Linked DNA regions of Homo sapiens. The protein of the gene in region 1 interacts with the protein of each later gene in a pairwise test. Each region holds a gene or a part of one and is shown on either strand. Other genes may lie near its edges. The genes, in order: SOCS7, MISP, YES1 and SORBS3.

Evidence for each region.
Region 2: the proteins of SOCS7 (region 1) and MISP interact in binary tests that used the Homo sapiens proteins (3 or more experiments, as listed by UniProt).
Region 3: the proteins of SOCS7 (region 1) and YES1 interact in binary tests that used the Homo sapiens proteins (3 or more experiments, as listed by UniProt).
Region 4: the proteins of SOCS7 (region 1) and SORBS3 interact in binary tests that used the Homo sapiens proteins (3 or more experiments, as listed by UniProt).

What each region holds. Positions count from the first base shown.
Region 1 is NC_000017.11:38,361,833-38,368,856, forward strand, and holds part of SOCS7 (suppressor of cytokine signaling 7), read left to right. Parts: intron 1-2,919; coding exon 2,920-3,024; intron 3,025-3,475; coding exon 3,476-3,577; intron 3,578-4,009; exon of another isoform or gene 4,010-4,201; intron 4,202-4,454; coding exon 4,455-4,585; intron 4,586-6,049; coding exon 6,050-6,218; intron 6,219-7,024. UniProt on the Homo sapiens protein: Substrate-recognition component of a cullin-5-RING E3 ubiquitin-protein ligase complex (ECS complex, also named CRL5 complex), which mediates the ubiquitination and subsequent proteasomal degradation of target proteins, such as DAB1 and IRS1.
Region 2 is NC_000019.10:747,257-754,135, reverse strand, and holds the start of MISP (mitotic interactor and substrate of PLK1), read right to left. Parts: upstream 3,025-6,879; 5' UTR 2,965-3,024; intron 1-2,964. UniProt on the Homo sapiens protein: Plays a role in mitotic spindle orientation and mitotic progression.
Region 3 is NC_000018.10:739,224-746,247, forward strand, and holds part of YES1 (tyrosine-protein kinase Yes), read right to left. Parts: intron 6,829-7,024; coding exon 6,725-6,828; intron 6,635-6,724; coding exon 6,485-6,634; intron 4,193-6,484; coding exon 4,037-4,192; intron 3,875-4,036; coding exon 3,695-3,874; intron 589-3,694; coding exon 512-588; intron 1-511. UniProt on the Homo sapiens protein: Non-receptor protein tyrosine kinase that is involved in the regulation of cell growth and survival, apoptosis, cell-cell adhesion, cytoskeleton remodeling, and differentiation.
Region 4 is NC_000008.11:22,561,927-22,568,950, reverse strand, and holds part of SORBS3 (vinexin), read right to left. Parts: coding exon 7,020-7,024; intron 4,965-7,019; coding exon 4,874-4,964; intron 4,669-4,873; coding exon 4,582-4,668; intron 4,484-4,581; coding exon 4,430-4,483; intron 4,143-4,429; exon of another isoform or gene 4,078-4,142; intron 3,945-4,077; exon of another isoform or gene 3,878-3,944; intron 3,684-3,877; coding exon 3,597-3,683; intron 3,223-3,596; exon of another isoform or gene 3,126-3,222; coding exon 3,079-3,125; intron 2,963-3,078; exon of another isoform or gene 2,708-2,962; intron 2,607-2,707; coding exon 2,467-2,606; intron 2,291-2,466; coding exon 2,238-2,290; intron 2,130-2,237; coding exon 2,083-2,129; intron 1,891-2,082; coding exon 1,776-1,890; intron 1-1,775. UniProt on the Homo sapiens protein: Vinexin alpha isoform promotes up-regulation of actin stress fiber formation. Vinexin beta isoform plays a role in cell spreading and enhances the activation of JNK/SAPK in response to EGF stimulation by using its third SH3 domain.

The DNA.
Region 1 (7,024 bases):
GTTGGGAAACACTTACAGATGCATCACAGGGAGCTGTAGGCGTGTCTGCAGTTATTTCCTTCATTCCATGCTTAGTGGGTTTGGGGTGAGGCTATTTTTATGGTATGGAATGTGTTCTTGACTTTGGATGCTTTATAGTTGGAGGTAAAGGCTGCTTGTTGGTAATTAGGTGGCCTGGGTGGCCCTAGCAGTTATGCAGTGCTTAGTTCAGGGTCATCACATATAAATTAAAACTAGGAATTACAAATTTATGGGCTCACAGTGCATAAAAGACTCTCTAGAAGTCATACAATTTCTGTCTCTGCTTCCAAGGGAGTTCATGGGTTATCTCATAAAAATGATCCATGATTATCTGGTCTATTTTTAAAGACTTTTTTGGGCAAAGGGGATTACATGAGCTCTTGTCTTTTTAGGGGCTTGCAGTTCCTGCAGCTGTTAGACTTCTTTATTGTATCTAATTTAAGTCTGCCCTCTTGCAGCAGGGAACACAGTTGCTAAACTAGGAAGGCTGTAGAATCTCCTTTGGATGATGGGTAACTGCCTTCTCGTTTCGTAGGGAGCTTTTTCAGAGAGGGAGACCTTCTGTTATGTCAGTCACAGGTGAAGCTCCTGCATGAATAAGCTGGAGAAAAGTGGGGCTTTGCCCATGTCTCAGAAACTGAGTACTTCTCATTGGTTGTGACTGAGAAGCCTTTAAAAAAAATCCCAATCTCAAACTCCTTTGGATATCATGTCCCTCAAAAAGGTGATTGGAAGACTTACGATTTGGGAATGGATGCTTCCAGGAAAATGTTAAGCAGGCCAATGAGACTTGCAGCTGGGTAGACTGCTGTGAACTGTCAAAACAAGTGAATTGGTACCTGTATAGGCATCTACTGTAGTGGAGAAGGAGGTCTCTGTTCTTACCCAAGCCCAGAATTAAAAAATCTTATCTTGCGATACCATGTCTTTCTAGTTAATAGTTGTTTCCTCATTAAAGTAAGGAACATGGCTTGGTCACGGTCACGGTGGCTCATGCCTATAATCCCAGCACTTTGGGAGGTTGAAGTGAGCAGATCATCTGAGGTCAGGTGTTTCAGACCAGCCTGGCCAACATGGTGTGAAACCCCGTCTCTACTAAAAATACAAAAAATTAGCTGGGGCATGGTGCCGCACGCCTGTAGTCCAGCTACTCGGGAGGCCGAGGCAGGAGAATCGCTTGAACCCGAGAGGCTGAGGTTGCAGTAAGCAGAGATTTTGCCACTGCACTCCAGCCTGAGCGACTGAGCCTCTGTCTCAAAAAAAAAAAAGGAACACCACCTACATTTGTAGTTTGAGGTTCAGGTCAGCCTCAGCCCTCTTGAATGACGTCCTTTATGTTAAGTGCTCTACCAATAGTCTAGACTGCTCTGGCCTGTCAGGAAATACACTTGTCTGGCTCCATCGCATTGCTCTGGGCAGCCAGGCTTTCAGTTACCAAGCTGTATGGTGAGTCTGGTACCAGCTTTCTAGAACTTCCACTGATGGCTTTTGTTTATTTTTGACACAGGGCCTCACTTTGTCTCCCAGGCTGGAGTGCAATGGTGCAGTCTCAGCTTACTGCAGCCTCGACCTCCTAGGCCCAAACGATCCTCCCACCTCAGCCTCCAGAATAGCTGGGACTATAGGCATGCACCACCATACCTGAATAATTTTTATATTTTTGTAGAGACGGGGTCTTAACGTGTTGCCCAGGCTGGTCTTGAACTCCTGAGTGCAAGTGATTCGCCTACCTTGGCCTCCCAAAGTGTTGGAATTACAGGTGTGACCCACTGCACCTGGTCTCACTGATGACTTTTAGAAGAGCTTTTCTGTTTATCTTAATTAGTATTCAAGAGCTTTGTAAAAAAACTGTGTATTTAGGTTCTGAAAGCCCAGTTTCCTTTGGTAGATATTGGTCACCTCATTTTCTTAACGGGGAAACATTTAAAATACTAGCTGAGGGGCTCATTCAGCCCTGAATTAAAAAAAAAGGTGTTGGAAGGAACACCGTAAGGGCTAAATTAGAGAAATCCTGAGTTCTGACTTGTGCATCAGGCCTGCCAAAATAACCGTATTCCTGGCTATCAGCTTGTGTTCATATTAATAAAATACCTTTCATCCTCTCGTGACTCAAGTGGAGAGGGAATAGACAGAGTTGGGTGGCAAGGAGTATTGTATATGGCAGGGAACAGAACTGCATGACATGCTGGGAAGAAGAGAGGCCATGTGCCTCCTCCCACCAAGTTCCTATGGAGAAGCTGCCTCTTAGATTACCTGACTTTTGTCTGACTGTGAAAGTAGTTAATTTTTAGGACTATAAATTGTACTTTCAGCCTTTGTAGCCTCAGCTGTTAAGAACAGATATCTTATTCAGGTAGATTCTCTTATGTGTGAATACTCTGGAAAATCAAGATATGGACTGCCCTCTAGGAAGAAGTTAGGACTAACATTGGGAACTTTATCTGCATTCAGCTTACCGTACAGTTCTTAGGTTTTCTGGCCCTTGCTTTCCATGTCTGTTTGGGCATATAACAAGCCACTTGGCTTGCTTCCTAAGGCAGAAATTGATACACAATTCTGAAAAAATAAATGGTATGGGTTCTATTGGATAAAGAAGACCCCTTGTTTGAGGGTACGTTGTAAGTCAGTGGCGGAACCAGAATTAGATGGTTTTTCCACTGTCAGTCCCATGGTTTTGTCCTAAAGAATCCTTGACCCTTAACAGGGCAAAGGAATGATAGAATTTAAAAATTGACTTCCTGGTGTTGGGGTGATTTCAGCCCTGGGGGCATTAGGTTTTGAGCTTTCTGAGAGCAGCAGACCCCCAGCCTCGCCTGCTTGCCCTTTGCTTCCCTTTGCTTTCTGCATCAGCTTTGGGCAAGGCGCTTCTGTAACTTGCTTGCTCCATGAATCCCTCAGGTGAAACTGTGTCGCTTGTGGATGTGGACATTTCTCAGCGGGGCCTGACCTCTCCACACCCTCCAACTCCCCCTCCTCCTCCGAGAAGAAGCCTCAGCCTCCTAGGTATAGTTTCTTCCCCTCTCCACCTTCTTGCCTAGTGGGAGGGTGAGCTCCAGGGACTTGTTCTTTGCTGGGGGCCGACCACGCTTCTGGGTTTCCGATGATGACTCAATTATTTCCCAGCTCTTTCTCAGCACCCCGTCATCTCCCTAAGCAATTAAATGGGTCTCACCCGCATGCTGTAATACTTACTATACATATATTAATTCAGTTTACATTTATCTTGCCTTGAACCCACTGCTATTGGGCTGCATTAGGAATATCCTTACTACCCTGCTTTCCAAAAGCAAAACAGAGTAAGATGATTGTTGCCCTCTGTGCAAAAAGACTGGGTGAAGGTTGGGCCATCCTGCCCCAGAGGGCAGCCTGATAGTCCTTCTCCCTCTCCTCTGCCTTCAGCGTGCTCATTCTGTGCTCACATTTCTGAACCTCTTGCTTTTGTTCTCTCTTCTAGATGATATCAGTGGGACGCTGCCTACATCTGTCCTTGTGGCTCCGATGGGGTCTTCCTTGCAGTCTTTCCCCCTACCTCCGCCTCCTCCACCCCATGCCCCAGGTTAGCTTAGTTTAGAGGCAAGACTTGTAAGAGTTGGGAGTACAAAGTGATACTTTCTACCATAGAAGGATGGGAGAAATCTATTTATGGAAATAACAGCTTAGTAGAAAGTTTAAATCTTTTCCCCTTGGCTGGACCAGACTCCTTAGAAATGAGGCGGAGAACTGGTTTTCCTAACCCGTTTTCTTTATGGAGGTCAATCTGATTTTTGTTAGGGATGAAAGACTACTGAATTTTTCATCAGTCTTTGCTGCTGAGACTGTTTTGCAATCCTTGAGTAGATATCACTTAAGAAACTGCCTTAATTTCAGGATAGTGAGGTTTAATATGTTGGTGGTTTTCAGCATTCTATGGTTTTTCTAAGCTTTTAGTATTTACTGCAGCCTTGTAAATAAGTACCAAGCATTTAGCAGCCCATACCTGCTTTGCCAGCTTACAGTACCCAAGGAATAAAATGAATGAAATCAGCATTCTTTTCTACTTGCCTGGCAAAATCATTACTCTTCCTGGGCAAGTAAGCGAGTCACTATTTCCAAGGCTGCCTTATCGGCACTTCACTTCGAGGTGGGAGAAGTTGGAATCGCTCTAGGCTGGTGAAGCCCCTGAAGTAGTCACCTTAGTAAGGTTAGTGAGCAGCTCCCCTCCCCCTTTCTTGGGGTCAAGTGCCCCCACCCATCCTTCACAGCTTACACAAGCCCACACAGCTTTTTGTTCCAGCCCATCCAGCTCTTTGCCACTGCTTTGGCTTCTACCCTTTCCAGCTTAGCTTCTAATGCCTTGCCCTCTTCAGTTAGCATCCTCTGTTTTTGGGGGAGGGTCTATTTGTGGTTGGGAGCAGTGAGGGTAAACAAGTGACCACCACTGTCTTGCCCTGCAGATGCATTTCCCCGGATTGCTCCCATCCGAGCAGCTGAATCCCTGCACAGCCAACCCCCACAGCACCTCCAGTGTCCCCTCTACCGGCCTGACTCGAGCAGCTTTGCAGCCAGCCTTCGAGAGTTGGAGAAGGTAGGTGGTACCTAAGGACTGGCAGGTCACTTCTCCTCCCATTAGCTAAATTCTGTATTCGGACACACCTTTATTTATGTGTTTATTTATTTTTAGAGACAGGGTCTGGCTCTGTTGCCCAGGCTAGGGTGTGGTGGCATAATCATAGCTCACTGTAGGCTCAAACTCCTGGGCCAAAGGATCCTTCTGCCTCAGCCTCCTGAGTAGCTAGGACTGCAGGCATGCACGACCAAGCCCAGCTAAAATTTATTTATATTTTTTGTAGAGACTGGTCTTGCAGTTTCCCAGGCTGGTCTTGAACTCCTGGGCTCAACGTGATCCTCTTGCCTCTGCCTCCCAAAGCTCTAGGATTATAGGCGTAAGCCACCACACCCAGCCCCTGTTTATTGTTTTCAGAGGAAGAATAGTTTACTTGCTTCCATATTTACAGTGACAAAACAGTGTGCTCCTGCTATTAGTTCCATGAGATGTAATAAAATTGAATTTGGGGAAAAAATTTGGACATGATAAAGGTTGTTGGAGAAATGTTTTACATAGTCTAAGCTGATTTTGATAGATTAACTGACCCAGTTCCCTCTTCTTTTCTTGGTAGGGTCTTTGGTAACAAAATTGTAGAATTATTATTCTTTGTTTTTTGTTGTTGTTGTTGTCTTGTTTTGTTTTTGAGACTGAGTTTCGCTCTTGTTGCCCAGGCTGGAGTGCAGTGGCGCAATCTCGGCTTACTGAAAACTCCGCCTCCTGGGTTCAAGCAATTCTCCTGCCTCAGTCTCCTGAGTAGCTGGTATTACAGGCGCCCACCACCATGCCCAGCTAATTACTGTATTTTTAGTAGAAATGGGGTTTCACCATGTTGGCCAGGCTGGTCTTGAACTCCTGACCTCAGGTGAGCCACCTGCCTTGGCCTCCCAAAGTGCTGGGATTACAGGTGTGAACCACTGCGCCCAGCCATTTTGTTTTTTGTTTTTTGTTTTTTTGACACAGAGTCTCACTGTGTAACCCAGGCTGGAGTACAGTGGCGCAATACCAGCTCACTGCAACCTCCACCTCCTGGGTTCAAGCGATTCTTCTGCCTCAGCCTCCTGAATAGCTGGGATTACAGGCATGTGCCACCAAACCCAGCTAATTTTTGTATTTTTAGTAGAGATGGGTTTTCACCATGTTGGCCAGGCTGGTCTCGAACTCCTGACCTCAAGTGATCCACCCGCCTCAGCCTCCCAAAGTGTTGGGATTACAGGCATGAGCCACAGCTCACGGCCAGAATTATTATTCTGTTACTTTGGAGGGCTAAAAGTATAGTGAGCCTGATGTTCATTGCTAATGGTTGAGACACTTGTAAGTGGCTTTTACCTATTGAAATATTTTGGAGAGAATGCAGAGGGTTCTCCCATGTTAAGATAGATTGCACTGAAAACTTTGACATTTCTCTGTCCTGATAACTAGTGGACTGCTTCTTGTCTTTGATAGTGTGGTTGGTATTGGGGGCCAATGAATTGGGAAGATGCAGAGATGAAGCTGAAAGGGAAACCAGATGGTTCTTTCCTGGTACGAGACAGTTCTGATCCTCGTTACATCCTGAGCCTCAGTTTCCGATCACAGGGTATCACCCACCACACTAGAATGGAGCACTACAGAGGTAAGAGATACTGGTAAGAGAGGCTTCTTCCCCCCTTGATTTGCTCTACCTTTGCTGTCTGACTTTTTTGTGGAAGAGATTCATAGGAATGGAACTACAAATAGGGGAAAAATTATCTTAGACTCAGTTGAATATTGATATGAGCGCTGATTTCCGTCACTAGAAGAAATGGAGGGGGTAGGGAAGGGAGAGTAAGGGTTCCATTTAAAAGTCTTGTCAGCAGCATCTTGTTTCCTAAATAGGAGGGCCTGAACAAAACTGTTGGAGAGGCTCCCGAGAAATGAGCCGGTAAAACTCTTTAGGTAAAAGGAAGAAAGAACCTAGGACCATTAGGCAAATTCTCACAAGCTTTGTTTGTAGTTAAACTTATCATCTAGAGATATTTTGTTAAATCACGTATACAAAGAGGGTGAATTTAGTGTTGATCCTGTAACTGTTCTGTTCTGAATTTCTTTCTTTTTTTTTTTTTGAGACAGAGTCTCGCTCTGTTGCCTAGGCTGGAGTGCAGTGGTGCGATCTCAGCTCACTGCAACCTCCGCCTCCTGGGTTCAAGTGATTCTTCTGCCTCAGCCTCCTATGTAGCTGGGATTACAGGCATGTGCCACCAGGCCTGGCTAATTTTTGTATTTTTAGTAGAAACAGTGTTTTATTCTGTTGGCCAGGCTGGTCTCAAACTCCTGACCTCAGGTGATCCACCCGCCTCGGCCTCCCAAAGGGCTTGGATTACAGGTGTGTCTGAATTTCTTTGTCTGATAGTCACTTTCTCCCAGGCAGCATGGTGATAATTTCCTCTTTTTGTCAATGTT
Region 2 (6,879 bases), on another chromosome or scaffold:
ATGTTGGCCAGGCTGGTCTTGAACTCCTGACTTCAGGTGATCCGCCTGCCTCGGCCTCCCAAAGTGCAGGGATTACAGGCGTGAGCCACCGTGTCCAGCAGACATCATCTTTCATAGTTGAGGAAAGGAAGCCTCACCTGAAGACACAGGGATCTCAAAAGCTTGAGCTCCTGACTCCTAAAAAAAGCACTGTCGGCTGGGCACAGGGGCTCAGGCCTGTAATCCCAGCTACTTGGGAGGCTGAGGTGGGAGAATCACTTGAACCTGTGAGGTGGAGGTTGCGGTGAGCTGAGATTGTGCCATTGCACTCCAGCCTGGGTGACAGAGAAAGACCCTGTCTCAAAAGAAAAACAAACCCCCACAAAGCAGGACTGTCGCTCCCGGGCCACCAAGGCTATTATTTAGATCTGCTGCCTTTACACCAACCAGCAGCATTTTTTTTTGTTTTTAAACAGACAGGGTCGGCCAGGCACAGTGGCTCACACCTGTAATCCCAGCACTTTGGCGGATCACGAGGTCAGGAGATCGAGACCATCCTGGCTAAAATGGTGAAACCCCATCTCTACTAAAAATACAAAAAAAATTAACCGGGTGTGCTGGCGGGCGCCTGTAGTCCCAGCTACTCAGGAGGCTGAGGCAGGAGAATGCTGTGAACCCGGGAGGTGGAGCTTGCAGGGAGCTGAGATCGCACCATTGCACTCCAGCCTGGTGACAGAGCTAGACTCCGCCTCAAAAAAAAAAAAAAAGAAAAAAAGAAAAAAAAAGAAAAACTTAGCCCCTCTCTGAACTGGAAAGTGGCATCAAACAGCATAAAGTGGAGAGACCGTGGGGAGCCGTGTTGAAACTACACGCAATGTGTCATGCAATCTTCCGCGCGTATCAAATGTCAGAAACTAAAATAGGGGAAACATTGAAAACCAGGCGGCATTGGTGAATAAATCCCACACAAACAGCTGAGCTTCCTCCCAAAGCGTGACGCACAGATGGCTCCCCTGACCCGAGGCCTCCTCCTCCGTGGACGCCGCCTGCCCAGCTCACGGAAGGCCTTGCCTTCTCCCACCCGAAACCGTCAGCCCAGGCCTCGCTCTCGCCTGCTGTGGCCACAGGTCAGCACCCTTCCTGCAGCCCAGAGTCTGGTATACAGCAGGCGCCTAATAAATACTGGCTGGGCAAACACCACTCATCCCAGCTGCTCAGACGTGGGGGTCGGGCTCATTGCGGAATGCAGACCGGCTCCACCGTGCCTTCTGGCCCTGAAGGGCTGGGCAGGTCCACGCCCTGCACCCTGGAGCTCCCCGGGGAGGGCGGGTGTAGGAATGTTTGCCCAGTGAGTGGACAGACGTTTACACAGCGGGATTTATAACCCACATCAGACGTCAACTCCGGGAGAAAGGGAGCTGTCCGCCCAGCCTCGAGCAGGTGCCGGGTCTCCCAGTGGGGTCGGGGTTGGGTGGGGATGAAGGCACGCATCCTCCTCTGCTCATTCCTCCCCAGTGATTCACTGAAGCCAGCGGGTGGGGCCTGGGGTCCAGCTCTTGGGTTCAAGGCCACTGGGCCCCCTCCCCTGCTGCCTGTGCCTCAGTGCCCACCCCCGCCCCCCGCTTTTTTTTTTGAGATAGAGTCTCCCTCTGTCGCCCAGGCTGGAGTGCAGTGGCGCGATCTCCATTCACTGCAACCTCTGCCTCCCGGATTCACACCATTCTCCTGCCTCAGCCTCCCAAGTAGCTGGGACTACAGGCGCCCGCCACCACGCCCGGCTAAGTTTTGTATTTTTAGTAGAGATGGGGTTTCACTGTGTCGGCCAAAAAAACCCCTGGATCCACGGCGGCTCTCATGGCCGGCATTCTTGGGCAGCGGCGCTGCCCTCGGGGGAAGAGCCCCAGGACGGAAGATGGCCCCTGCAAGGCCCGGCGGTGGCTAAGGACCTCGGCGTCCTGAGACTCTTCCTGCAACACCTTGGAACCGTTTTCGACTCCGGTTTTCGAGAGAGGGAGCTGGGACCCAGAGAGGAGAACCTGCTCATCTGAGGTCACACAGCGATGACAGAGCAAGTGTCTGAAGCCAGTTTTCAGACTTTGCTCCAAATCACCCCCTCCTACAGGAAGCCCCCTGGGTTGCTCCTCCCAGCCTCACCCTGAACTCTGTTGATACCAGAATGAAACTGGGTTTATGGACCCTGGTGCCACACCTCCTTCCTCATCAGCCAGTTGGCTCTATGTGAGGGGCAAAGGTTCCCTTGTGGGGCCGAGACTCAGACAAGGAGGCCATGCAGAAGGGAGGGCCCCGTTCCTTTTTCCCATCCCTCAGGGTTGCAGTCACCCTTGAGTCATCTCAGCTCCTTGGGCTCCTGGGCGGAGCTCCACCGGCAGACGCTGGGCCGAGTCCCTGCTGGCTGCCCGGGATCCCAGGCTACCACCTCACCCCCACCCGAGGACCCAGGCCAAGTCCCCAGCCCCGGCCTGAGACTCCTTCCGCCTGTACTCAGCCACCCCTCCTCCGTGTCCCCAAACCAGCCCCCAGCCCCACGGGGGTGTTTACTGCCCAGAGCCTCCCAGTCAGGGGCCTGGTGGGACGGATAAGCATCTCTCCAGAAGCCTCTGGAATTCCCAGAACCATGGAGGGGCCCCTCTGGCCTCTGACCATGGGGGTGCCAACCCGGCCCCTCCCTTGGAGGGCTCTGGGATTTGGGGTTCAAAAGCCCCAGCAGAGTTCAGGGACAAGGGCCTCTCTGCTCTCCCAGTGGGTGCCCTTGAGGCCCCAGAGTACCTAGCGGGGGCAGAGGGAAAGGTGCCTCAGGGAGGCTCCGAGGGTGACGGGGTGGGGCAGGGGGCCTCCCTGGATCCCAAGTGCCGCCAGGCAAGCAGACCCCGCCCACAGACACATGACGCTCCCACGCCAAATGTGGATCCAACCGCCCCACACAGGATCCCCGCCCGGCCCGGCCCGGGGCGCCCCCAGCCTCACCTGCCGGCTCCCGGCTCCACAGTCTGCAGCCTCCACTCTGACTCCTCGATGGGCACAGAGGCCTCCCAGCTCCGCCCTGCCCGCCAGGTTGCCAGGGAACAGAGGCCCCACCCAGGGGAGGCAGGTGTGCCCCCTCCCCCCAGCCCCACCTGGGATCAGGAAACAAAGTCCAGAGGAGGAGGAGGGAGAAAGAGGATACCAGGCTGGGCAAGGGCGGGCACCGTGCCCGCTGCCGGCTGCCCCTCCACCCCCAGGGCCTCCAGGTGGCCCCGAGGAGCCAGAACTCAGCCGAAACCTCCCTTGGCTGCCTGGCCCTCCCACCGCCTCTCAGCACCGCTCAGAGAGGGTCAGCAGGTGTCCAGGGCCACACAGCAGCTCAGCGTGCACAGTGGCCTGTGTCTCCTGGGGGGCCGGAGGGGCTGAGTCCCAATCCCGTCCGTGCCTTCTGGCCCAGCCCACCCCTTGGGGCAACTCCCCTAGATGGCCCCCTTCTTGCATAAACCAGGTTTGGCAGACTCGGGGGGGTTTGGTGTGGCCTGGGTTCTGATCCCACCTGACCTCTCTTAGCCCTGTTTTCTCCTCCGGGACGTGGGGGAACATCACGCCCGGGCTCCCTCAGGGCTGCTGGGAGGAATTCCCTAGGCCCCATCCACATAAAAACCCATACGAGGGGGCCGGACTTGGTGGCTCACACCTGTAATCCCAGCACTTTGGGAGGCCGAGGCGGGCGGATCACTTGAGGCCAGGAGTTCGAGACCAGCCTGGCCAACATGGCGAAACCCCGTCTCTACTAAAAATACAAAATTTAGCGGGGTATGGTGGCACGCTATTATAATCCCAGCTACTTGGGAGGCTGAGGCAGAAGAATCACTTGAACCCAGGAGTTGGAGGTTGCAGTGAGCCGAGATCACACCACTGCACTCCAGCCTGGGCGACAAGAGCAAAACTCCAACTCAAAAAAAAAAAAAAAAAAAAAAAAAAAAGAACCGCACGAGGCCGTCAAAAGACCCAGGCCACCCCGAGAGATGGGGACGCAGAGGCCCTCAGGCGCCCATGGTCCTCCTGGATTCTTAGTCAAGGTGCAGAGGCCTTGCTGGGACTGTGGGGAGCCCAGCATCTGTGGGGAAGTCGGGCCACTGGGCCTAGCGCCGTCTATGAGGGCAGGGAACACAGCTGAGGGGGCAGGGACTTCAGTTCCCCAGGCTGGGGCTCTGTCCTGACCTACGCCAGAGGGGCTGCTTGTGGAGCCCCTCTGAACCTCAGTCTCTTCTTCGAGTAAAAAGGCCCCCAGCTACGAATCCAGCAGGGCTGCTCAGGAGGGGGGTGCTTTTTTTGTGTTTTTTTTTTGAGACGGAGTCTCGCTCTTGTCACCCAGGCTGGAGTGCAGTGGCACGATCTCGGCTCACGGCAACCTCCCCTGTTCAAGCAATTCTCCTGCCTCAGCTTCCCTAGTAGCTGGGATTACTGGCATGAGCCACCACGCCCAGCTATTTTTGTATTTTTAGTAGAGACAGGGTTTTGCCACGTTAGCCAGGCTGGTCTCGAACTCCTGACCTCAGGTGATGCCCCCGCCTCAGCCTCCCAAAGTGCTGGGATTACAGGCGCGAGCCACGGCGCCTGGCCAAGATGGGGGTGTTTAAGGACAAATCTGGATAAAGGGCCCCCAAAGGACAGCGTGGCACCTAACGCTGCTGGGTGTGTGAAAGCTCAGGGTGCGCGGCCTCACGGCGCCTCCCACCGCCGCCTCCCGCCACCCCCTTCACGTCCTTTTCTCCCTGGCTTGTAGATAGGGAAACGGAGGTACGGAAAGCTTAAAATCGCGCCTCAGGAATGGCGGGGGTTTAGGCTGGAATTGGAACCTGAGTTCCCTCAGCAGTGCTCTCCACCACACTCACCACCTCATCGGGGAAAACTGAGGCCCCAGCAGGGTGGAGGCTGGATCGCCCATGAGCTGGGGGCACTGTGGAGACGTCCCACGCCCAGGCTGAGGCTGGCCTCCCACTCAGGGCTCCGAAGGCCTATTTTATTTTATTTGAGACAGAGTCTCGCTCTGTCGCCCAGGTTGGAGTGCAGTGGCACGATCTCAGCTCACTGCAGCCTCCGCCTCCCAGGTTCAAGCGATTCTCCTGCCTCAGCCTCCTGAATAGCTAGGATTACAGGCGTGAGCCACCACGCCCGGCTAAGTTTTTGTATTTTTAGTAGAGACAGGGTTTCAGTATGTTGGCCAGGATGGTATCGATCTCTTGACCTTGTGATCCGCCCACCTCGGCCTCCCAAAGTACTAGGATTGCAGGTGTGAAACACCGTGCCCGGCCACGAAGGCTTATTTTACAGATGGGAAAACTGAGGCCCAGAGGAGGCAGCGACTTCTCCAAGACTACAGCGTGAGAGAGTGGGGCTGGCGGGGCAGCACCTTCCCGTGAGCATGACACTGGTCTCTACAGACACCTCCTCCCCAGGCCTCCTGTGTATTTCCCAGGGGCCGGCTTCTCTACAGAGCTTGTGGGTGTCCAGGGGACCCTCTGTCATCACCCAGGGGCTGTGAGCCCAGCAAAGGGAGGAACAAAGGACAGGACGGGGCGGCCGCAGAACCCGAGGGCCCCCCGGGAAGCCAGTCCTGCCCCCCCACAGCAGCCCCTTACAGCCAGGCCTTACCTGCACAGTGGGGATTCCAGCGCCTCCCACCACCCCAAGGCGCTCAGGGTGAGCGGGTGCAGGCAGGTGAAGCCAGCACACCGCAACCCTGCTCAGCCTCCCTTTAATGGCTCAAAGGCCGGCAGGCCCCACCCCCTGGCCTGGCCACGCCTTCCTCGCCAGGTTGAAAGGCAAGAACTCCAGGAACTGGGGCTGTTCACGCTGTTTATTTGCTTCTCTGGGAAAATCAAGAACATCGGGGGCCTCGTCACACACCAGAAGCAGAGGGGGTTATAGCAAGGGCACTTCAGCGAAGGCTCGCGGCTCGAGGGACTCAGGCAGACTCCAGGGAGGAGGAGGGGGTTCCACGGCTGACGCCCAGGTCACCCCCGAGAGGGCCTCTCCTCCCAGCCACCCAGGGGCAGAGCGGAGGCAGGGACCCAGGCTCCCATCCGAGGTGGCCCCTGTACCTGCCCTGCCGAGGCTGCAGGTGGTGACTGGACCAGGAGGTGGCCTGAGCACTGGGCACCAGGCTGGAGGTCCCTAGGGCAGGGACCAAGTTGGGGCCTGGTTGTCCAAAGCCAACGTGTGAGACGGTGTCTGTGAGAATGTGCACGAATGTGCCTCTGGGGACGAGTGTAGCTGCCCCCAGGAGGGAAGCCCCTTGCCACTTCCAATGAGAGGGGGCTGGGGGCAGGCTCACATTGGTCTGGGTGGCAAATGAGGGTCTCCTGCTCCAACCCAAGAGGCTTCCTGTCCCAGGCTGTGTCCCTCCCTCCACTGCCCGGACGTGCTCCAAGCCCAGTAGAGCTGGCAGGTGGGGCCTGATCTCGGGGTATGGTTGGGAAGACCCAGGACCCTGGTCCAAGCAGGATGGAGAAGAGGCCGGGGGCGGCCCCTGGGGTCCCCAAATTAGCACCAGGAGGAAGGAGGGCCCAGTGGGGGCGGGAGCTCGGGACAAGGAGTGGCTCACTCGGTCCCTGCCCTGTGCAGGGGGCAGGTCAATGACCCCTGGTTCGCCCCGTCTAGAAGATAGCCCAGGGGTTACCGGCCCCTCCCGGGTGGGGGCATGTCCCCGGGGTTCCCCCTCCCCCAGACTCCATTGTCCACTGGTTGGGCCCACACAGGGCATAGGGGCACAGCAGAGGGGCCTGTCCTCCACCCAAGACCTTTAGCCCCCAAAGAGGCACGGCCTCACCCCAACTGCCTGAGATTGGGGGGCCAGCGCCTTGGCCAGGGAACCCCATAGAGCCTCACTTCCAGGGCCTGAGCAGGCCTCAG
Region 3 (7,024 bases), on another chromosome or scaffold:
TGTGAATTTTAGATACCTCTCATCTTTTGATACTTCATTAATCTGTATCATTAAGAGCTCACATTGGATTATCTCTGACGTTCCTGCCAGTTCTAAAATTCCATTATTGGCCAGGTAATCCCAATACTTTGGGAGGCTGAGGTGGGAGGATCCTTTGAGCCAAGGACTTTGAGACTAGCCTAAGCAACACAGAGAGATCCCTGTGTCTACAAAAAAAATAATTTTTTAAATTAGCTGGGAATGGTGGCCTGTGCCTGCAGTCCTAGCTACCCAGGAGGCTGAGGCGAGAGGATTGCTAGAGCCCAAGAATTCAAGGCTCTTCAAGCACGGAGCTATCAGTGCACCACTGCATTCCACCCTGGGTGACAGAATGAGACGCTGTCTCTAAAAAATAAAAAATAAAAATAAAATCCCACCATTTCACTACACATACTATAATATTCTGGTAAGATTATTCCACATTTTAATTTACACTTTTAATTCAAATGGATACATGTATATATACAGATACCTGAGCAGCCATATCAACCAGCTGTGGAAGCTTCAAATACTTTCCATCTCCTTCCTTAAGGAAATCTAATAAGCTTCCTGTAACAGACAGCAAGATATTCATAAAAAATAAGCAAATCTTATATTAGGATTGAAATGAATACTCCTCCACCCCAAATCACAACACAAAACTTCTTAGCTTTTCATTTTTTTTAAATTTTGTGCAGTTTTGCAGTTTCCAAATAATTATCTAGGTCCTAGAAGAGGTCTCTAAGCTGAAATTTTGAAAACTTCTGATAACACATGCAAAAAAAGAAAATGCATTAACTTTACCTGACAAGAGGCATTTTTTCCTCGCTTTGATCAATATCCCAATTCTGATTCAAAAAGTAGTATTAAATACTTACATATTTTTAAGTAAATCTGAATCAAGAATTCAGACAACTAGGAATATCTTGGGTGTGGTTAAAACTAAATATAGGTAGCTAAATGAGTCGCTGTGGAACTACTGCTGTGACCAAGCTCTCTCTCTGAAAACTACAAAGTACTATGAATAACAGCAAAGAAAAAGGCTAGAAGTCTGATTACGGCTTCACTATTATTTGTTAAGGCTTATAATCAAGAGAAAACATCACACAAAACCAAATTAAGGCACATTTAAAACATAAAAGTGGTCTATTCTCTTCAGAAGTAACAATGCTATGGAAGACAGAGGAAGGTTGAGGAATGGCTCTAGATTAAAGGAGACTAAATAGAAATGACAACTAAATGGAATGCCTGACCATAAACTGGATCGGGGAAGTGTAGTTGGTGGACTGGTCCAGAGCTAGGGAGACCAAATTCCAGGTCAAAGAGAAAACATGAAAAAATCATGAAAACAAAGAGCAGAACAGTGGGTTTATGCTGGAGTGCATGGGACAATGAGTTTGGACAGATTATAAAGGGACAAGTGCTAAGTGAATACCAAAATGAGGAATTAAAGAGTTTTAAAAATAGAAAGGACTTTTGTTATCTTGTATTCTAAATCTCTCCCGCCTGGAAATAATTGTACCCAGTGGTCTGACAACACAGAATTTTACCATGTTCTCCCAATTAAATAATTCTTAAAATTAATATACAGAGCTAAATGGGCTATTAGCCTTACCTTCATTATATTTCTTATGTTCCAATATCTTTTTTAATTGTTAAAGTCTTTATTTATTTGAAACGGAGTCTCACTCAGTCACCCAGGCTGGAGTGCAGCGGTGTCATCTTGGCTCACTGCAACCTCTGCCTCCCTAGCTCAAGCCATTCTCGTGCCTCAGCCTCCCGAGCAGCTGGAACTACAGGCACAAGCCACCACGCCCAGCTGTTTTTTGTATTTTTAGCAGAGACGGGGTTTCGCTATGTTGGCCAGGCTGGGATCGAACTCCTGACCTCAAGTGATCTGCCTGCCTCGGCCTCCCAAAGCGCTGGGATTGGAGGCATGAACCACTGTGCCTGGCCTGCTTCCAATATCTTGATTTAAACATCTTCCCTGTCCTTTTCTCCTTTTTTTTTTTTTCTTTTTTGAGACAGTCTCATTTTTTCACCCCAGATGGGAGTGCAGTGGCACAATCACAGCTCACTATGGCCTTAACCTCCTGGGCTCAAGCAATCCTCATGCCTCAGCCTCCTGAGTAGGGAATACATGTGTGTGCAACCACGTCCTGCTAATTTTTTTAGTTTTTGTAGAGATGGGGTTTCACCATGTTGCTCAGGTCAGCCACCATGCCTGGCCCTCCCTTCCCCTCTGGTTCATCTAATATACTCTTTGAAAGGGCATATTTGGGCTGGGTGTGGTGGCTCACACCTGTAATCCCAGCACTTTGGGAGGCCAAGGCAGGCTGATTGCTTGATCCCAGGAGTTCCAAACTAGCCTGGGAAACAGGGTGAAATCCCATCTGTAGAAAAATACACAAATTATCTATGTGTGGTGGCATGCACCTGTAATCCCAGCTACTCAGGAGGCTGAGATGAGAGGATCGCTTGAGCCCAGGGAGGTCCAAGCTGCAGAGAAATGTGACTGCACTCCACCCTGGGGGATAGAGTGAGGCCCCACCTCACAAAAAAACAAAAACAACAAACAAACAAGCAAACAAACAAAAAAATGTCATATTTGGCAACTGTTTGCAGTAGACATTCCTTCCAAAGAGCGCCAGGTGCTTTGGGTCTTTAGGTGTGTTCTGGCTATCAATTAATAGGCTGTATAATTTCTTAACTTTTGGTTTCAGTCCCCTTTTGAGGGGAAAAATTTTCCTACAGCAAATATGTAACTTGTAGTTGTCCTTGTCACCACTAGATGGAACTACATCATTGACCAAGACACACCACTGGAGAGGGTGACATAATTAGTGACTACTGTATATTATTGGTTCAAGAGTAAAAATAATAATAAAGCAGATGAAATCAAACACATAAAAATCAGGCCTGTCAGCTTATCTGCTGACTTACTAGTTCCTCTAAGTACCATCTGCACAGGGAAAAAGAGGAAAGAGTATCAATCTTCTCTTTATCCTCCCCCTAACTAACCCTGTTACTGAAGATCCCATCTTGTGGTCTAGAGTTAAGGAAAATGAAGAAACTTCCATTGAAGGTAGTGGGGAGGCCAGGCACAGTGGCTCATGCTGGTAATACCAGCACTTTGGGAGGCCAAAAAGGGAGGACTGCCTGAGGCCAGGAGTTCAAGACCAGCCTGGGCAACATAGTTGAGACCCCAGTCTCTATTTAAAAAAAAAAAAAAAAAGAAAGCAGTGGGGAAAAAAGTTCCTAGAAGTCCTGAATATAGGAATTATGTTTATATTAAAATGAGAAAACTAATTCATTTTAACTTTACCTTATTTCTTTGCTTTAGTACTAAAAATGTAAGTATCTTTCTGATTTTATCATTTTAATTAAATGTGTACAAACACTTTCTATTTTTCACCTTTCTAGCTTTTCCATTTGTTTTAGTCAAACTTAATTTCAAAATTAATTCAGCCTGCCTACTTTTCCTTTTAAACGTCATACTATCCTCTGGAATAACTGGATAATCACTATTCCATTAAACAAAGTGTCAGGTTTCTTCTATCCAAATATGTCTACATAAAAATCTTAAATTAGAAAACAGTATAAGTCTATATGCATACAAATCAAGACTCTTAAAAACATTATCAACACAAATACCTAAGGAGATACTAATACATACCTTTTGACATAAATTCAGTGACAATGTAAATTGGTTCTTCAGAAACAACAGCATATAGTGGAACAAGTTTATCATGTCTTAATTTTTTCATTATCTGAGCTTCTTGAAGGAAAGCTTCTGGCATCATTGTACCTGGTTTTAGTGTTTTGATTGCTACTTTCGTGGTTCCATTCCATGTTCCTAAAGAAATAACACATTTTAGGAATTTATATTTTAAAGGATTTTAGACCAAACTTCAGTGAACAGCACTTCTCTTAAATATTGAAACATATTTTATCATAAATTGTTGCACTTTAATCCACAGCTAAACAATGACAGAAAACAAAAATTCAGGCTTCTTACCCATCCACACTTCGCCGAAACATCCTTGTCCTAGTTTAACCTCTAGTCGCAAAGATTCTCGAGGGATTTCCCAAGCATCTTTTGCTAGACCTTGAGTCTGAGGTTTCACAGTTGGACACACAGTTGTCAACTTGTGGCATAAACCATCAGCATGTTCTAGATAAATGAATAAACTATACTGTAATATCAATTACAAAAATTAAGGGGCATATAGTGTATCAATGTTTTAAGTTTAAACTGTAGAAAAACAAAAACAGAAGTCCTTTCGAGTTTTACTCTAAAAGCACAAAACAAAAAGGGAGTTGTCCATAAGCAGCAAAACATGAAATATACATAAGTGAAACATTTTGTAAAATTTATTTTTAAGGCCGGGCAAGGTGTCTCACGTCTGTAATCCCAGCACTTTGGGAGGTTGAGGCAGATGAATCACGAGGTCAGGAGTTCGAGACTAGCCTGGCCAATACAGTGAAACACTGTCTCTACTAAAAATACAAAAGTTAGCCGGGCATGGTGGTGCATGCCTGTAGTCTCAGCTACTAAGGAAGCTGAGGCAGATGGATCGCATGAACCCAGGAGGCAGAGGTTGCAGTGAGCCAAAATTGCGCCACTGCACTCTAGCCTGGGTGACACAGTGAGATTCTGACTCGAAAAAAAAAAAAATATATATATATATACATGTTATTACTTACTACTTAGTATGTATATACTAATATATAGTAAATATATTGTATTTACTACTTAGTATGTATATACTAATATATAGTAGATATGTTAGTATATTTACTAAATACTTAGTATAACTTAAAATATATATTTTTTTAAGTTATTATTTACTAAATACTTAGTATGTTCCACTATTGTGCTAAATTAGCACTTCACAAGTATCTCATATATAAATGAAGCTTTGAAAACATACGCAACTTTCCCCTAAGGCCCTGCAGTTAGTAAATGGTAGAGATGGGATTCAAATCTAGGTCTGTCTGCTTCCAAAGTTCTGCCTTTGTACACTGGGTTTTATTAATTCTCAAAGAGAATGTTATCATTAAATGTTATTATCTAATAGCCACTAATTTGTAAGAGGCATACCAAAAAATCAAGGAAAAAGTTCATTTAGGATCATTTAGGAGATTTTTTCTTTTTTTTTTTTTGAGATGGAGTCTCACTCTGTCGCCCAGGATGGAGTGCAGTGGTGTGGTCTCAGCTCACTGCAACTTCCACCTCCCAGGTTCAAGTGATTCTCCTGCCTCAGCCTCCCAAGTAGCTGAGCCTACAGGTGCATGCCACCACGCCTGGCTAAATTTTTTTATATTTTAATAGATAGGGTTTTGCCATGTTGCCCAGGCTGGTCTCAAACTCCTGACCTCAAGTGATCTGTCTGTTTCGGCCTCCCAAAGTGGTGGGATTACAGGAGTGAGCCACCACGCCTGGCCTTTTTTTTTTTTTTTTTTTTTTTTTTAAGAGATGAGGTCTTGCTATGTTGCCCAGGCTGTTCTTGAACTCCTGGCCTCAAGTGATCCTCCTGCATCAGTAGTTGGGATTAAAGGCACAATCCACATGCCTAACAGGAGACTGATTTTTTTAAATAAGGGAGACACAAAGTCAGGGAACCCTAGATTCATAACAGCTTGACTTATGAATTCTGCTTATACAATCTTTCTTATTATAAATGAGACATGTTCTCTCCTATTCTCACTAAAATAACCACATAAATTCACATTGTGACAAAGGCAATTACAAGTGATGCCACTGCTTGGTAACATGCTTGATCAATGTCAAGATTGCTGGCTGACTTGATAGACTCAGTTTGCAGCTAGCTGTCATTGAAGACATTACCATGGAAACATCCCCTCTCCTAGTATTAATCATGTAAAGACTTTCAGGTGCATTCATATGCCAAATTGGTAATGAAAAATTTTGAGACAGAAGATTCTAATATTAAATACCTTCAGAGGTCCTTGAAAGACAAAAATGTCTATAATTGCTATAGGTTAATTTTCTAGGATAAGAAAAATGCATCGTCAGACCAAATTTCACTGGATTTATACTTTAGGAAAGCTTATGCGATCCAGCCCATGCAGAGGAAGGTAATCCTTCTGACATAGCTTTTTCTGTTACCCAATGTTTAGTTTTACTTACTAAGTGCCCATAAATATTTGCTTTTAGGTTTATTTTCATAAGGTACATGTGGTGAAATGAACTCCAATGTAAATACTATGCCAGTAAGATATAAGGACCCAAATGATGAGAGTCTATTAGCACATTATCTGAGTAGCACAATGCAAGTACTAAGTATTACCTGTTCCTCCCTTTAGAATACAACAGACATTTATTGGGCATGTATTATGTGTAAATAAGTGTGTTAAATCTTAAGAGAAATGAGGATATGGATTTTGTCCTCATAAACTAGAATATGAAGAAATAATTTTTACCTTTGAAATATTCACATACCTGTGTAGTGTTTCACCAATTTCTGCAGAGTATCAAATTGTGCTCTGGTTGTGATATAGTATCCACCATTGTCAAGTTTCCTAATTTTGTAGTGTTTCACATTGTCACCCCTTATCTCATCCCAATCACGAATAGAAAGGGAATAAGCACCTGGGTGAAAAATAAATACTTTCACTATATCTTTCTCAAAATACTGCCCCAAGAAATTTTATACTTATACTAATATAACAATATTCATACCTTTAGTTGTTTCACTCTCTCTTACTAAGAAAATACCTCGTTGATTTCCAGGATTCAAAAGTAATCTTTCAGCATCTTTTCTCCCCATTTTGCCAAAATACCATCTGGAAAAAAATTAAGTGTTTTGAATTGAAAAGTATGAGGTTCAGAAAAATTATACAGAAGTGTCAGTAAGAATGGACTGGGATAGGTTTGGACGACAAAGAATAGCTAGAGAACATGGCTCAAAATACAGGAAAATGTAAGAGTTTTATTGATTAAATAGTAATATCACAAATATTACTGTTAGAATATACTCTT
Region 4 (7,024 bases), on another chromosome or scaffold:
CGCTCCCTGGAAGAAGAATTTTCCATAGGGATATATGGAGTGGGCATTACTGAAGTGAAGAACTCCAAGAGAAAAGATGGAAGCCAGTCCAATTAGAGAGTTTAAGTTGGACCACAGAAGAAAATGAGGCGTTCCAAGCAGCAAGGGGAACTTGGGGAACTGTTCCAAAACTGAGCATTCACCCTTTTCTCACTGCTGAGAACCGGGTGTCCCTGGGTTCCAGCGTCTCGGTTCTTCCTCCCCATCTACCCCAGCCGGAGCCCAGAATCCTCACGTTCTCTTTGCTTCACTCTGCCCATAAAAATCAAGCAGCCAATAAACCATTTCACACAAAGATAGAAACGACTGGCGGAGTGAAATACTGTATATACTTTGTGAAATTTCAGGACCAAGTGGATCATCGTGTAAGCAAGGGAGGCCTAATGATACCTATCAAAACAAGAGCCTGAATTAAACAACAACCCAACCCATGGGTCAAAGAGGAAGTCACAGACGAGATGAGAAAACAGTCAAGAGTTGATGAAAAATCAAAATGTGTGAGATGCAGTTAAAGCAGCATTCTAGGGAAAAATGTTTCAAATCAATAGTCTAAACTTTCATCCTAAGAAACTTAGAAAAATAACAAATTAAACCAAAAGCAAGCAACAATAAGCAAATAAGAAGCAGAACTCAATGAAATCGAAAACAAAAACGAGAGAAAAACATGAATAAAATCCAAAGATCAAGTAAATTAATAAAGCTCTAGACAGAATAAGAGAAGACGCAAATTGCCAACATCAGGAATGAAAGAGAACATATCAGCCGGGCACAGTGGCTCACGCTTGTAACCCAAGCACTTTGGGAGGCTGAGGCGGGTGGATCACCTGAGGTCAGGAGTTCGAGACCAGCCAGGCCAATGTATAGTGAAACCTCATCTCTACTAAAAAATTACAAAAATTATCTGGGCGTGGTGGCGCATTCCTGTAGTCCCAGCTACTTAGGAAGCTGGGGCAGGAGAATCCCTTGAACCAGGGAGGTGGAGGTTGCAGTGCACCAAGATCCCGCCACTGCACTCCAGCCTGGACAGCAGAGCAAGACTCTGTCTCTCCAAAAAAAAAAAAAAGAAAGAGAAGACATCACTACATATTTTACTGACATGAAAAGGATAGTAAGAGACTATAATGAACACCTTTATGCCAGTAATTTGGATAACTTGACATATTTTAAAAGTCACAAATAGCAAAGATAACCTATCGCCCTTTATCTGTCAAGCCCAGAACCTGTCTCTGGAATCAAAAGACCTGGATTCAGATTCTGGATCTTTTACTTAATAACTTTTCACTGAACCTTGGCATCCCCATCTGTAAAACAGAGATAATCTATCACTCTCTGGGCAGTGAGAGGAACCAGGGCGGTAATACACCTGAAAGAGGTTATGCGTGTATACGTGATTTATAAACTGTCGCACACTTCCCACTCTTGCTAGTTGCCATTAGGATGATTTCCAAAGACAGCTTTAGAAAGACGGATCTGAATGGTGAAAGTCTGGGACACGAATGGTTGAGGAGCTGGCTGCTGGGTCCTCCCCTGGGCTAGGCTCCACCCTCATTTAGCAAACATTTCCTGGGGTCATGCACAGCATTGGGCCAAGCCCTGTGGGGGCCAAGGACAGTTCCGAGACACGCCCCAGCCCCTCACAGTTTTTTGCTTTAGGAAACCCAAGGTTTGCACTAAGTCTCTCCCAACCCCTGCGCCCTCCCAGCCCAGCCCCACTTGCTCTTGTCTCTCCTGCTCACCTCCACATAATTAGCAGGGAAGATGCCCAGGCGGCCGTGGTGCTCTCCCTCCAGCCAGTTCTTGTCCACCTCCTTGTGGATGTAGACAATGTCACCCTTCTGCAGAGTCAGCTCCCTGCAGGTGGGGACGAGGACCGCAGGGTAAGCTGAAGCCTTCCCAAGCCTCCTTCCCTTCAGACCCTGCCCAACACACCCCAGTTCTCTCACCCCTTGGGGATGCCCACTGCAGCCCAGTCCCCCTCCCCATCCCCCTCTGGGATGGCAGAGATTGCCTTGGGTGGAAGGGGAGGGGGAGGAGGGCGCTTACTTGGGGGACTGCGCCTGGAAGTCAAACTTGAGCCTGGCGGCCTTTCTCTAGGCAGGGGAGAGGACAGAGTGGGCTCTCTCAGTTGGGCGGGTGGCAGATCCAGGATGGCAGCCTTGGGACCACTCCAGGTCCCCCACACCTGGTCCCCTCCTTACCTTCTTCTCTTCCCTCCTGGCTGGGCTGCCCCCTCCGTTAGAGGCACTAGGGTCTGTGGAGAAGCACAACCTCAGCTTGGGGAGGCCATACCTGGGGGATGGGGTTGCACCCCCACCTAGGGCAGGCACTGGCAGAAGCAAGGGGCTCTGTGACCTGCCACCCCTGGGGCACCAACATGCCTGGTGGGTGGGCATCTCCGTGAGAAAGAGAGCAGGGCTGGGTCCTTACCTCGGGTTGAGGAAGGGTAGACAAAGTCCCTCCGACCTAGGAAGGGGCTTCCTCCATCAGCCATTTTGTGGGGACTCAGGGACCGGGCGGAACCCAGGTAAGGTGCATGTGGGTAGCTGGAGCTCCAGGCTGAGGCCGGGCTGCACGGGGCACAGAGACTGAGCCTCCAGCCTGGGGCTCCGCACCCCACCCTGGTCACCCCTAGACCGCTCTGACCCCCCATCGCCCCCATCCCTGCCACCTCCTCCCAGGGCGTCTCCCGGGTCCTGGGCTCTCCACAGGATGTCCTACTTCCCGAGTCGCTGCGCGGGGAAGGGTGAGGCCCGGCAGGGCCCAGCGGGAGTGCCTGGGCCGTGGCGGGGCCGCCCTAACCGCGCTGCGCCCCCGGCGGCCGCGACCCCGGTCCTCTGCTAGGAGTTAGCTGCCCTCGGTGGCGCGGGAACGGCGCCCCGCAGAGAGTGGCGCTGCGGTCCCTCCCGGACACGGCTCTGCGGTTCCTTCCTCCCCCGGCTGGGCCCCGCGATCGCCCCCGTCCGCCCCGCCCGGCCGCGCCACGTTCCCTCCCGCCCGGCCTGGGACAGCCCCCTTCCTCCTCCCGCGTCTCCCACTCACCCGGCCGGGGGCCGCTGCTCCGGGGCCCGTCGGGGCGCCGGCGAGCTCTGCGCGGGGAAACGGCGCAATCAGGGCCCGCGACCCCGGGACCCAGCGGCAGCCGAGGCCGCCGCCTCCGGAAAAGTTCGCGGCTCGGGAGGGGAGGAGAGCGGGCGGGACGCGGGGTCCTAGAGGCGCCCGCGCGGCCGATCCCGGGAGCGGGGCGGGAACTAGGGGAAGGGGCGGGGGTCCCCGAGGCTGGGGCCCGGGGGCCGGACGGGGCGGGCGCCCGGTCGTCGGGCTGACGTGGAGTCCGCTTAGAAAGGCTCCTCGGGGTCACTTGCGAAAGTCGACGCCCTGTATTTTATTTATGGAGGAGCGAGCCCGCCAGCGCCCAGGAGGGCCCGAGGCCGGTGCGCGCCGCTGGAGGCCGGACCTCGGCTGCCCGTCCTCCGCCCAGCCCAGCCGCCGAGGCTCCCGGCTCGCCCCGACCCTGCGGTCGCCGGCGTGCCCCGCGGGTGAACCCTGGGGGCTGGTACCTTGGGGGACGGCAGTCGGGTCTCAATTGCCCGCAGGTCCTTGTCCAGCTCGGCGCTCAGCTCGGCCAGCTCTCTCTCCAGCAGCACCTGGGGGCGGGGAGAGGCTGGGCAGTGAGGGGCAGCGCACCGTGGGGGTGGGAGGCAGCGGTCAAAGATCGACTGTGAAAAGCAAGGCCAGCGCACCGGGCCGGCGTAAGGGCAGGCCTCAGCGCACGGGCCGGGCTCCTGCCAGGAGGTGTGGCCCAGGGTGCCAAGAGGGCATCCCCGCCACGGCCTCTCACCTGCCCAGCACGCCCCGGGAGTGCCTACGCGCTTCCTGATCCCGCGATTCCGCAGTCCTGCCAGTTTCTGCCAAGTTGTGTCTCTGTTACAGCACCAATGGGGTTCCCCATTTCCTCTCCCATCTTCTCCCGCCCTCCAAGGCCTGGCTTCACTGTGCCCATCCAGGTTCCCCCGCCACCCCAGGGACCGGAGCCCCCACCCCCACGCTGCTTCCTGCCAGCCTCTGCTATGGGTCTTCGCCGAATCAGGCCCTCGGAGCTTCTCAAGGGTCCAGCTCCACCTCCAAGAATATTTCCTGATAATCCCAGTGCGCACTGACCACTCCCTTTTCTGCTCCTGCTTTGGCCAACACATATTTATTTAACACATGTTTACTGAGCGCCTCCTGTATGCCAGCCACTGTCCTGAGTGCTGGCATTACAGAAATAAACCATGTGGGACTGGAGAGAGAGCTCTTAGTTCGTGGCCTATGCCCATGGTTACTGGGGCCACCAAAACCCTAATCTCCCTGGTTTATCAGGCTGCTGTCCCCAGCACCCTGCAGCACTCACCTCAATGGGCTGGGAGGGCTTCTCACCAGGGTCGTCCACCAGCGGTTTCTTGGGCTGAAGGGTAGAAAGGGTGTGTCAGAGCAGGTGAACTCACTTTCCAAAATGTATCAGCTGAGGGTGCGTGCACACCCCGAGAGCCAGCCAGCACTCACCCTCTGCCCAGTCTCTAGTTCCTGCAGAAACTGGTTCCAGGACTCTTCCGTCCAGACATTGTCTACTTTTTCCCGGCGTCTGAGCACCTGCGTGGAGGTGGGTGGGTGTCAGCTTGTGAAGAGGGCTACTGGGACACTGGCCAGGCTCAAAATGCAGGCTTGCAGGCCCCTGCCCTTCCCCTGGGCCCACGGTGTCCTCCAAGGGATTCAAGCTGAAAGGACATCGTGGCATAGGGTCTTGGCCATACGGCATACAGCTGGGGCTGACCAGGGACTATGCTGGGTGGGCTACCTGATTTGAGGGCTGCAGCACAGTGGAGAATGCTCCAGGTCTGTAGTTGAAGGTGCTTCTAGGTAACTCTTCAGAGTGGTCCCAGCTTCTTCTAAAGAAAGGGAAGGACATCTCTTCAGCTTCCTTTTAGGGAGACTGAGGCAGAAGCCAGCACACAGCCCTCTCACCCTGCCCTTGTCCCTGCTGTGGGGTCTACTCTGCCTCTGACTGCCCTGCCGTTACTCTGGAAGCAAGATTAAACTGTGGAAGTGTGTGAGCTCCAAGCTTAAATTCCAGCTCTACTGTTTAGTGGATGTGTAACCTTTGAACAAGTTACTGATCCCTCAGAGCCTCAGGCTCAGAACCTGTAATATAGAAATGATTTGGTGAGAGAACATATATGAGGTGCCCGGGAGAAGGCCTCACACACATATTTGCTCCAGGTGTGGCCCGACCCTCTCCTGTGGGCCTTTTTGCTAAAGTGTCCTGTATGTGTGTTTGGTCTGGCCCCATGACTGTGGCTATGTGCGTCTGTGCAGCTTTGAAGAAGCTGGTCTTTCTGGGTGCTGTGGCTGAGTGATCGTACACCCATGGGCAAGGAAAGCCAGAGGCAGCTCTGCCCTGCAGCTCTGGCCAAGTTATTTCTGCTCCCTGGGCCTAGTTCCATGAGGGTGCTGGATTCAGTGACTCTGTCTGTGAGACCACCCCAGCCACTGCAGTACAGCATGGACACATCTGCCTTAGCTCCCCTCCAGGGCCCCTTGCTGGCTGGCTTACATGGAATGTTCCAGCCTCTGTTTGAAAGTTTCCACTGAGAGGAACCACTGCATCAGGCTTATCAAATAATACAACGTCTGACCAAGGGTTGGGATTTGTTGGCTGTAATAATGACTCCATTCTGATTTTGGTAATAATAAAAGTGACTGTGAGAATGTCATTCCTAACCTAAGGAAGCAGTAATCATAATTTTTTTTTTTTTTGATACGGAGTCTCGCTCTGTCGCCCAGGCTGGAGTGCAGTGGCGCAATCCCGGCTCACTGCAAGCTCCGCCTCCTGGGTTCATGCCATTCTCCTACCTCAGCCTCCCGAGTAGATGGGACTACAGGCACCCGCCACCGCGCCCGGCTAATTTTTTGTATTGTTTTTAGTAGAGACGGGGTTTCACCATGTTAGCCAGGATGGTCTCGATCTCCTGACCTCGTGATCCGCCCGCCTCAGCCTCCAAAAGTGCTGGGATTACAGGCGTGAGCCACCACACCCAGCCTTGTAATCATAATTAAGCCTGTATATTACTAATGTTTGTGCAGGCTTGCTATGTGCAAAACATGATGCATGATACACACATGATCACACTGAACCCTCTGGGCATTACCACTTAAAAGATGGGGACACAGAGGCTCAGACTGAGTGAGGTACCCACAGTCACATGGCTAGTGGCAGTGCACAGGCTTAAACCCAGAACTCAGCGTCCAAATCTTGAGCCCTTTGCCTCTGAACCTTATCGGTGATGCCCAGAGCTACGGGCCAGTTTCAGCCATGCTAATGAGACGAGTCCTTCCCTGCAAGGGAATAAGAAACTCAAGGATTTAACTCTGAGAGCAAAGATCCTGATTCCCACGGTGGTGCTGACCCCGCCAGGGCCCCAGCAGCCGGGCGGAGCCTGTGGTTTGCACAGAGGAAAGGAATGTCATCCTTATCCCTCCAAGGGGCTCCTCTCTCTGTGCTATCAGGCTGGAACTTGGGTTCTTCCATATCCCTTGTTTTCTCTCAGGTTTCAAAGTGGACAGCGCCAGGTCCAAGTTCCCCTCAACAGTTCTGTCCACGGCTGTCCTGGCCGCCCCACTCCCGGTCTCATAAGACCGGTGGGATCTTTGGGGCAAAGAGTTCCTGCTGCTGACCACAAACGCATCACAGGCGTTCCTGGCCAGGAGCGGGTGCCAGGTCCACTCTTGCCTACCCTTCCCCCCTTGACCCTGTAGGGAAGAGAGTCTATGGGGGTGGTGGAGACCCAGAGATGGGACAGAGCCCAGACGGACACGGAAGTGAGACCCCACTCCTGGCTGGGCTCCGAGGCTGTGCCGGCTGTGGTCACGAGGGGGCGCCCGTCCCATGGTGTCTCGCGGGCCGCGCCCCTCCGCAGCCCTCGGCCCCGCCCCACTGTGCTCACCCACT